Regions from separate parts of the Homo sapiens genome. Here region 1 is linked to region 2. Evidence: fine-mapped expression QTL. Tissue or cell type: testis. Region 2 holds a variant in brackets; the other region holds the start of a gene. All regions are shown on one strand. Distances are from middle to middle.

Region 1 (5,146 bases), 28 kb after region 2:
GGACAGTCATCCTTTTTTCCCTACCTTCATCACTAAAGTCTGGGTTTGTAAAATACTGATGTATACTTGGATATTTGATGATTTTATTCTTTGGTTGGTAAAAGGTATAGAATTGTATGGAGCATTTTATTTACCTCTCCAGCAAAATTCCCATGGGCTGGTCTCTATTTTTCATACTTTTGCAAACAGTACAGAATGACAGGCCATGAAGAAATGCTGACTCATGCGCTCATGAGGAAGTTGAATTGTAGATCTGGGCCCAACACACACAATGCAGCGTAAGATGAGGGAGAAGATAACCAGTCACGACCATTAAAATTGTTCCTTTCCAATTAGAAAAAAATAATTCATGACCATTTTATAAAATGTGGAAAATAGGAAAAAAATACATAGAAGAAAGTAAAATTTACCATAATCCTAAAACTCTAAAATAAATGCTGTTAAAACAGTTGGGCTTCTTTTAGTCTTTTCAAAATAGGTCATTTTAAGAATTGTTGATTTGGCCAGGCGGGGTGGCTCACATCTGTAATCCCAGCACTTTAGGAGGCCAAGGTGGGCAGATTACTTGAGGTCAGGAGTTCGAGATCAGCCTGACCAACATGGAGAAACCCCGTCTCTACTAAAAATACAAAAGATTAGTCGGGCGTGGTGGCAGGCGTCTGTAATCCAGCTACTTGGGAGGCTGAGACAGAATTGCTTCAACCCAGGAGGCGGAGGTAGCAGTGAGCCGAGATTGCACCACTGCATTCCAGCCTGGGTGACAGAGCAAGGCTCCATCTCAAAAAAAAAAGAAAAGAAAAAGAAAACAGACGACAGGTGCAGTGGCTCACACCTGTAATCCCAGCACTTTGGGAGGCCAAGGTGGGTGGATCACCTGAGGTCGGGAGTTCGAGACCATCCTGACCAACATGGAGAAACCCCGTCTTTAATAAAAATACAAAAAATTAGCAGGGCATGGTGGCGCATGCCTGTAATCCCAGCTACTCGGAGGCTGAGACAGGAGAATTGCTTGAACCCAGGAGGCAGAGACTGCGGTTAGCCAAGATCGTGCCATTGCCCTCCAGCCTGGGCAACAAGAGCAAAACTCGGTCTCAAAAAAAAAAAAAACGAAAAAGAAAAGAAAAATAATCATTGATTTGGGCCGGGTGTGGTGGCTCACGCCTGTAATCCTAGCACTTTGGGAGGCCAAGAGGGGTGGATCACTTGAGTCCAGGAGTTCAAGATCATCCTGGTCAACATGGTGAAACCCTTTCTGTACTAAAAATACAAAAATTACCCGGGCATAGTGGTGGATGCCTGTAGTCCCAGCTACTCAGGAGGCTGAGGCAGGAGAATTGCTTGAACCTGGGAGGCAGAGGGTGCAGTGAGCTGAGATTGTGACACTGCACTGGGTGACAGAGCAAGGCTCTGTCACAAAAAAAAAAAAAAAAAAAAAAAGTTGATTTGCTATTTCTTCAGTTTATCCTGGCTTTATGACTGGAAAAAAATTTTTTTTAACTCAGTTGGATTTTTTCTTTTTTTTTTTTTTTTTTTAAGTTGATGTCTCACTATGTTGCCCAGGCTGGTCTCAGAATTCCTGGGCTCAAACAACCCTCCCGCCTCAGCCTCCCTAGTAGCTGAAACTGCAGGTGCACACCACCATACCCTGCTTTATCCCCACTGAATTTTATAAGCTGCTTCTGACTGCAAAGTGTTTGGCAGAAGAGAGGGATATGGCTAAATGCACGGTATGACTAGCTTGTTTCCTGGGACAGGAATCAGTTCATTCCTGAAAGGGTATGTAAAGAGCCCGTTTGCCTGGCCTAGGAAAAGCCAGAGGTTCAGAGAGAGGAAGTGACTTGCTCAAGATATACAGCTTGCATTAGAGAGGAGAGAACTTGCCTTCTGAAAATGCCCAGGGCATTTTCTACTAAATTCTGCTGCCACCTTAGGATTCCCCTTCCCCAGTGTGGGTAGCATTTGAGCAGAACACATATCTAAATCTGTTAGAGGTTACCCTGGGGCAGAGACTATAAGATTTCCTACCAATAACTAAACATAAGAGTGGAACCTTAAACACGAGGGGTCTGTGAGGGAATCCAAAACTTCCCCTCTTGAAAAAGCAGCCTCTAAGGGGGCAAAATGGAGGGTAGTCTTAGGAAAACACCCAAATAATTATCCTGAGGTCTATCTTGGAGTGTCCTCATGAAAAACCCAGTTACACCCAGGGCAGTTACCTTTCTGAGCGGTTTCTTATAACATTCCTGGAGTGGAAAGTGATCAACTCAAAGCCCTCCAGGACTCTAGAGGCAGGGGATGAGCTGGTGTCAGGTAGCACCTGGTATCCAGCAGCTTAAAAAATCCAGACTCTAGGCAGGCTCTCTGTAGACGTGTGTTCTCCTGTCTCAGACTCTTAGGGCAGGCCTTGGGGGTGGGACTGAAAGCAAACAGACCTTCCCACTTTCACATTCCAGCCTCTGTTATTCCACTTAAAACGCTAGGGTTAAACTGCGTTTACCTTAAACAGGCTTACTGTGTTCACTGCTGGACGCCTCTGGGCAATCTTACCCTCCTGGGAACTGAGAGAGGTAGGTGGAGGTCAGCGTGCTGGGAAACTGGTGGAGGGAGGAAACTGCGGGGAGCTGGTCTTCTCGTGTTACCTCTGTTAAATCGCTGACAGCAGTTTAAGGTCCAATAGGCTGGTACTCAAATGGGCTGCGTGGATGTTTTATATTTCCAGAACCTAGCACAGTGCCGGGCATAAAGTAAGTACACCAAAAAATGTTGAATGAGTCATTTGGTCATGAGATTTCTGTTTTCAAAGGTTTTTTTTTTTTCAAAGAATAGCATGTTTGTATGTTGTTTCATTACATGATGGGCCTACTGGGCACGAGGGTTTTCCATCTGTCTCTAAATCATTAGTATCCTTCTGTATCTCAGTTACAACTTTTAACTTTGTAGGAAAGAACAACGTTCACTTCAGACTTAATGGTTTATGTTTCTCAGTTCCTTCAGGCAAGGGAAAATGTTTCCAGAATTTGATAAGGTACTTGGTACTGTCTGGCATTTAAATTTTTTTTTTTTTTTCCAGACATAGTCTCACTCTGTCACCCAGGCGAGAGTACGGTGGTGCGATCTCAGCTTACTGCAACCCCCACCTCCTGGGTCCTGCCTCAGCCTCCTGAGTAGCTGGGACTACAGGCATGCACAACCAAGCCCGGCTAATTTTTGTATCTTTAGTAGAGATGGGGTTTCATCATGTTGGCCAGGCTGGTCTCAAACTCCTGACTCCATGTGATCCACCTGCCTCAGCCTCCTGAAGTGCTGGGATTACAGGCGTGAGCCACCGTCCACAGCCTGAAATGTATTTTATTTAATTAGTTGCTGTGAGGTATGAACATTCCTGTGAGGTATGAACCTCATTTGATAATAGGTAAAATTGAAAATGAAGCTCTGGGCCATGTAGAAAAGTAGTAGATCCATATTGCCATTCTATGAAAACCCATCTTCTGATATTAAAGACAGGTCTACTAAGTAAATTCAGGTTTTGCCAAACTCAAAGCTACTTTTCTGTTTTCCTTATTTTTAAATGTAGGCCTTTGAGAGTCGTCACTTGTAAATAGTCTTTCTGCACCTGGTAGTAGATTGGCCAAATAGAGGGTAGTTACCTGTAGGCTGTGGTTTTCCAGAAGAAATAGGGAGACTGTAATCCCAGGCCCTGGGGACCCTACAGCGTAAAGGATCTGTTTCTTTGCACTCTGTTCTGATTGAACAGCATATTGCAATTATCGGAAGAAGGGAGGCTATATTCTTTCATGTAATTATTCTTAGTGATCAGAAGCTTGAGGTCTCCCTTGTGGAAGTATTCTACCTATGGCAGTAATTTTTGGTTCCTGTAACTTCAAAATCCTATCAAGGACTTTCTGAGCGATAGAGGTCGGGAGGGTAAGAGCAAAACTCCATCCAGAAAGGTGAAAACAACAAACAAAGCCTCGGGCACGGAGATTGGGCTGCTGTTCTAGCTTCTCATAATATCCCATTTATAGAATACACTCAATCCTCAACTCCAGGGTAACTTTCTGCAACAGTAAAATTAGACTTAAAACGAATGAGGTTCTCCAGCTCTGGCTTCTCCCGGAGACCCTGGCTTGGAAAGCCTGGAGTTGTCAGATATCTTTTCATGTGCAAACGCAGGCGGAAAGTGCCTTTAAGGCCTCGACTCCGCCTAGTAACTGAGCTGCTATTTAACTTTGCTCAGTCTTGCATTGCCTCAAAGTTATTTGACTGAGCTTGAAAAGACCAGCTTTCAGCCAGGCGCGGTGTGGCTCATGACTGTAATCCCAGCACTTTGGGAGGCCGAGTCAGGCGGATCACCTGAGATCAGGAGTTCGAGACCAGCCTACCAGCATGGTGAAACCCCATCTCTACTAAAAAGAAAATACAAAAATTAGCCGGGTGTGGTGGCACATGCCTGTAACCCCAGCTGCTCGGGAGGCTGAGGCAGGAGAATTGCTTAAACCCGGGAGGCAGAGGCTTCAGTGAGCCGGGATGGCGTCATTACACTGCAGACGGGGCAACAAGAGCGAAACTCCGTCTCAAAAGAAAAAAAAAAAAAAAAAGACCAGCTTTCTCTTATAGTTTCCTATTACTTTTTTTCCCAGCTATTTTTTGTTAAACGATCACAACCCACTTCATTTCCCCCTCGTAGCCTCTTCTTCCCCACAGCTTTCCATCCAGGTCTGGAATTAGCTCTGACTTCTCTAGAAGCCCTGAGCTGAGCACGTTAGGTGCCCTACCTCCAGAATCCTCCCAGCATGGCCTGGAGATTGCTGTTGTCTTGACTCTAGACTTGAAAAACCAAGGCCGGGCGCTGTGGCTCATGCCTGTAATCCCAGCACTTTGGGAGGCCGGGGTGGGCGGATCACGAGGTCAGGAGATCGAGACCATCCTGGCTAACACGGTGAAACCCCGTCTCTATTAAAAATACAAAAAAATTAGCCGGGCTTGGTGGTGGGCGCCTGTAGTCCCAGCTACTCGGGAGGCTGAGGCAGGAGAATGGCCTGAACCCGGGAGGCGGAGCTTGCAGTGAGCCGAGATCGCGCCACTGCACTCCAGCCTGGGTGACAGAGCGAGACTCTGTCTCAAAAAAAAAAAAAAAAAAAAACCA
Region 2 (5,146 bases):
CAAAAAGGCTGAGGACCACTACTTTTAAGACCCTCTGTCCAGGCCCCACCTTCAGATGCTGACCACCCAGTGCCTTAGACTTCATTTGTTCATCTGTGTTAAATTGAAGGCTTTTTTTTTTTTTAAACGAGGGGCTCTGGGCTTGCAATGTGTTCTTGTGAAATGAATGAATGAATGAACAAATGGCTTTAGAAATCAGACAATTATATTTCCCTAAAGTTTTTGAAAGATTCCATAAAATAAAAAGACTATTTGGAAGCACAAAACCAGGGAAAATTGCCTTGGTTTCTCATTACCTACTGGCAGGGGTTGCTCAGAGCTGAGCGGTATAGAATAGACAGACCTGGATTTACTATGCTTTATCTTACCTGATATTCAAAACTATCTTACAAGTGGAATACTAGTAACATCTCGCCACCCCCCAACCCTTTTTTTTTTTTTTTTGGAGACAGAGTGTAGCTCTGTTACCTAGGCTGGAGTGCAGTGGCGCAATCTCGGCTCACTGAAACCTCTGCCTCCTGGGTTCAAGAGATTCTCCTGCCTCAGCCTCCCGAGTAGCTGGGACCAGAGGCACGTGCCACCACACCCGGCCAATTTTTGTATTTTTAGTAGAGACGGGGTTTCACCATGTTGGCCACGCTAGTTTCAAACTCCTGACCTCAGGTGAACCACCCGCCTCAGCCTCTCAAAGTGTTGGGATTACAGGCGTGAGCCACCGCACCCAGCCAGCATCTCCCTTCAATGGATAAGGAAATCAGAGCTTCCAGAAGTTAAGTGAGGTTTGCGGACACTTTATTGTTGGGCACAAACTCAACAAGTCTGACTCTAGTGTAACTGGTAACTCCCATGCCAACATGGAATTCAGAGCCTCTAGTGGTGGGATTTCTTGCAGGCCCTGTCATCCCTGGGCTGAGGTTCTTGTGGAAGGTCAAGGTGGCTGGGTGGAACTTGGCAGTGTGGTCAATCAACAGCGCATGGGCATTGAAATTAGGATACTTAGATTCAAAACAGATCTCTCACTTTCTGATTTAGGGCAAGTTACTTGACTTCACCTGCCTCCATTTTCTCAATTGTAACGTGGAACCGAGAAATGACAATGTGCCAGCAGCCCTCCCTCGCTATCGGCGCCTACTCTGGCCGTGCTTGAGGAGCCCTTCAGCCTACCGCTGCGCTGTGGGAACCGCTCTCTGGGGTTGGCCCAGGCTGAAGCCAGCTCCTTTGCTCGCAGGGAGTGTGGAGGGAGAGCCGCGGGCGGGAGCCGGGGCTGCGCGCGGCGCTCGTGGCCGGCGCGCGGTCTCGGCAGTCGCCGAACTTCACTGTCAACTGACGTCTGCTGGGCTTGACTAGGGAAAAAGCTCCCTCTGGGCTGCCAGAGTGCCCGAATTGGGTGCTGCAAAGTGCCCCAGCGCCTGCCGGTAAGAGGTGAAACCGGCTGGGTTTCTGGGAGGGGTGCGAACTTGGAGAACTTTTGTGTCTAGCTAAAGGATTGTAAACTCACCAATCAGCATTCTCTGTGTCTAGCTAAAGGTTTGTAAAAGTACCAATCAACACTCTGTGTCTCGCTAATCTTGTGGGGACTTGGAGAACTTTTGTGTCTAGCTAAAGGATTGTAAACGCACCAGTGAGCACTCTGTGTCTAGCTAAAGGTTTGTAAACACACCAATCAGCACCCTGTCAAAAATGGACCAATCAGCATTCTGTAAAATGGACCAATCAGCACTCTGTAAAATGGACCAATCAGTTCTCTGTAAAATGGACCAATCAGCAGGATGTGGGTGGGGTCAGATAAGGGAATAAAAGCAGGCTGCCTGAATCAATAAGGATAACTGGTTTACGTCTGTTCTTTGTGTTGCTATAGACTTGTTGTTTGGGTTTGTGTTATCTTTTTGATCTGCAGGACTAATAGTAAAAGTCTGTAGCTTCAGTTATAGACTAAGATTACTACTCTGCCAGAAGTAGTGAATAAAGAATCAACTGGGTGGGATGAATCACGGTAGGTGTTCTATGCTTAAGAGCTGGGAGGTTTACCATCTCTGTCTGTAGCTTTGGTCGTTAAAGCAGCGGGATTCTGAAAAAAAGCTGTAGCACTCAGTGGGAAAGTAGGTAGCTTCAGTTTTTAAGTTAGTGAGATTAGGAAGGTGTGTAATGCTCCCAGTCCACTCAATGTGAAGATCTGTAATGTCATTCCTGAAGTCAGTAAGAGCACGAACCCACTATAGAGAAGAAACAAAAGAGGCAAACCCACCAGAGAGAAGAAACTTTGAGCACATCTGAACAGAAGAAATAAACTGGGGTCACATGTTTAACAATTGTAATTCTGTGAGGGTCCACAGCTTCATGCTTGAAGTCAGACTGAGAACCCACTAATTCCACACGCAGTTGTGAAAACTATAGAGGATTTTTTTTTTCTTTTGACAGTTTCACTTGTGCTGCCCAGGCTGGAGTGCAGTGGCACTATCTTGGCACACTGTGGCTTATGTCACGGGTTCAAGCGATTCTGCTGTCTCAGCCTCCCAAGTATGGATTACAGGTATGTGCTACTAGGCCCAGCCAAATTATTTACTGATCATTTTTGGTTTTGTTGCCCAGGCTGGAGTGCAGTGGTGTCCTCTGTGTACTGCAATCTTTGCCTCCCGGGGTCAAGTGGCTTGCCTCTCTCGGCCTCCTGAGTAGCTGGGACTGTAGGCACCCACTACCACACTTGGCTAATTTTTTTGTATTTTTAGTAGAGATGAGATTTCTCAACATTGGCCAGGATGTTGTTGATCTCCTGACCTTGTGATCTGCCCACCTCAGTCTCCCAGAGTGCTGGGATTACAGGAGTGACACACTCTGCCTGGCCTATTTTTCTATTTTTAATAAAGATTTTCACCACGTTGGCCAGGCTGGTCTCGATCTGACCTCAGGTGATCTGCCTGCCTTGGCCTCCGAAAGTGCTGGGGTTACAGGTATGAGCCATTGTGCCTGGTAAATAAGTTTATGTACCAGTGCTGCATCCATGTCATGTGAGCTGGTGTCTTCACCTCCATATAAATATGTTTACATGCTTTTGGAAAGAATGAAAATCTGTGGATGACGACTAAAAATGAGGAACGGCGGAAAAAAAGTCCTGAAGTTTAAATGGACCCGTTTTCTC[T/C]AGTGGTGCTTGAAACGAACTGGTTACGGGGGTCAAAAACATGATTCATCGCACCAGGGTGGTCTTTGGTAGCTCTGAGTGGCCACCGTGAGTTCAGTCTTAGTCTTGAATGCAATAGATAATCCTTATCAATTCCAATGAGCCAGTTAAACGGATTTCATGGAACTCTGCAATGGATTACTAAAATGTTCACGGCGGGGCGCCGTGGCTGAAGCGTGTAATCCCAGCGCTTTGGGAGACTGAGGCAGGCAGATAATCTGAGGTCAAGAATTCAAGACCAGCCTGGGCAACATGGTGAAACTGTACTAAAAATACAGAAGTTAGCCAGGCATGGTGATGCACACCTATAATCCAAGCTACTTGGGTGGCTGAGGCAGGAGAATTGCTTGAACCCAGGAGGGGGGAGGCGGAGGTTGCAGTCAGCTGAGATCATGCCATTGCACTCCAGCCTGGGAGACAGAGCGAGACTCCGTCTCTCTCTCTCACACACACACAAGTTCACATTGATCCCGGAGCATTAGGACCTTGGTTTCCTACTGCTGTGTGGATGGATGAGACCTCAGCTGGCATCTGAGAACCCTGGGGAGGGGAAAGAATCAAAACCAGATATACCTGCACCCAACTCCCAGGGCCTCACCTTCTCAAAACATCAACCACTGTCGCCTTATAGTGCAAAAAGCATTGTTGAGTGAAGTGCATGCACAAGTTTGATCGTGCCCCAAGTGCAAACTTGCCTTGAGAAAAATGTCATTTCCACGTCCCCCTCTTAAACATTAAGAGACCGTCTCCTACCTCTTAGGTCTGGGCAGCCTACCCCAGAATCTTGGCTCTCCCTCTCTGCCCGAATCGAAATCAGAGATTTGAAAAAGTCTGGCAAAAGGTTTTTGAAAGGTCACCAGGCCATTTCTTTGCTACCTTTAGTGGTGGTAGCATTTATCTTACCATAGACGTCAAGTCAAAAAAAAGTTCCGCAGACATTTGCGTCAGTAAAGCAAAGAGACTGGGCCTGGCTCCGCGGGACTCAGTGGTGCCCGCTGGCCCTGCCAGCTCTGCTGAGTCTGTGAGGACTGGAAGGCTTTGGAGCTGCTGCGCCGACTCCGACGTGGAAAAAGCATGTAGTCGGGGCAGCGCCTGTTTCCACAAGGAACGCAAAAAGGTGGCGTCAAGGATTACGGTCCCCCTTGCAGTAAAGTAACTGGGCAGGAAGGCGACAAAGGTACTGCGGCTCCGAACCACAGTGGGTAACAAGGGAAACCTGCTCAGACCTGTGTGTGCATCGCCAATGTCGGATTTTGGTTTGGTTTTGTTTTTTTACTTTTAAAAAGATATAAAGTCTTTGGTTCTTTGCATGAAAACATTAGTAGTGGGATGGGAAATTTATTTGGATGAAGTTCAGTAGTTACTCAAGTGATAGTCGCTCTTCCTGGGAGGATCTTAGTGATCATTAAGGTCCGGGCCACCCTTAATAAGTGCCTGTTAACAGCAGCAGTCATTGATTTTTGAAAGTGTGTGGTCGGCAGCAGAAAGCCTGGTACAGCCTTGCTTCTACCGTTTTCTCGGTTGTTTTGGAATCGCCTTTGCAAAAGCCATGCACGGCTATAGTTCTGTGATAGCACCCAGGGCTCATGGTCTCTCTCTGCTGTGTACCAAATGCGTCGAACTAGCGCTGAGGACTTCTTGCAGGGGATGTCTGTTTAACAGCGGTCATTTCTGCTTCCCTGGCGGTGAAAGCAGGAAACACCTGGAATCCTTAGATTCTGAAAACTTCATGTTACTCTCTGGAATATGTGCGTGCATGTGTGTGTGTGCATGCGTGTGCATGCGTGCGTGCATGTGTATAAGTATGATCTGCTCTAGTGCATTCTCTCAAGTGATTTTTTTAAACTGTATGATTTATTGCCTACTTTGTAAATGCAACAGGCTTACACAGCAGTTGGTCCATAACCTGCCCCCAAGCACACAGCCCTCATGACCCTACACTGGCCAAATTCACCCTTTTTTTTTTTTTTT

What was found. PIP is the estimated chance that this variant, and not a neighbour inherited with it, causes the effect.
Region 1: GCNT2 starts here. The variant in region 2 is fine-mapped to the expression of GCNT2 in testis (GTEx, PIP above 0.99).

Annotation. Positions count from the first base shown.
Region 1 is chr6:10,518,851-10,523,996 of GRCh38, forward strand. GCNT2 (glucosaminyl (N-acetyl) transferase 2 (I blood group)) reads left to right here and starts at 2,501. Exons shown (of 5, transcript NM_145649.5): 1 at 2,501-2,567. LOC101928146 (a long non-coding RNA gene) reads right to left here and starts at 2,556. Exons shown (of 3, transcript XR_001743961.2): 1 at 2,498-2,556. RefSeq lists enhancers at 1-132, 148-292, 372-1,067, 2,788-2,847 and a cis regulatory region at 215-225.
Region 2 is chr6:10,490,402-10,495,547 of GRCh38, forward strand. No RefSeq gene overlaps it. Among named protein-coding and RNA genes, the nearest start is that of LINC02522, 11 kb to the left of the region's middle. The variant T/C (reference allele first, on the strand shown) is at 3,137.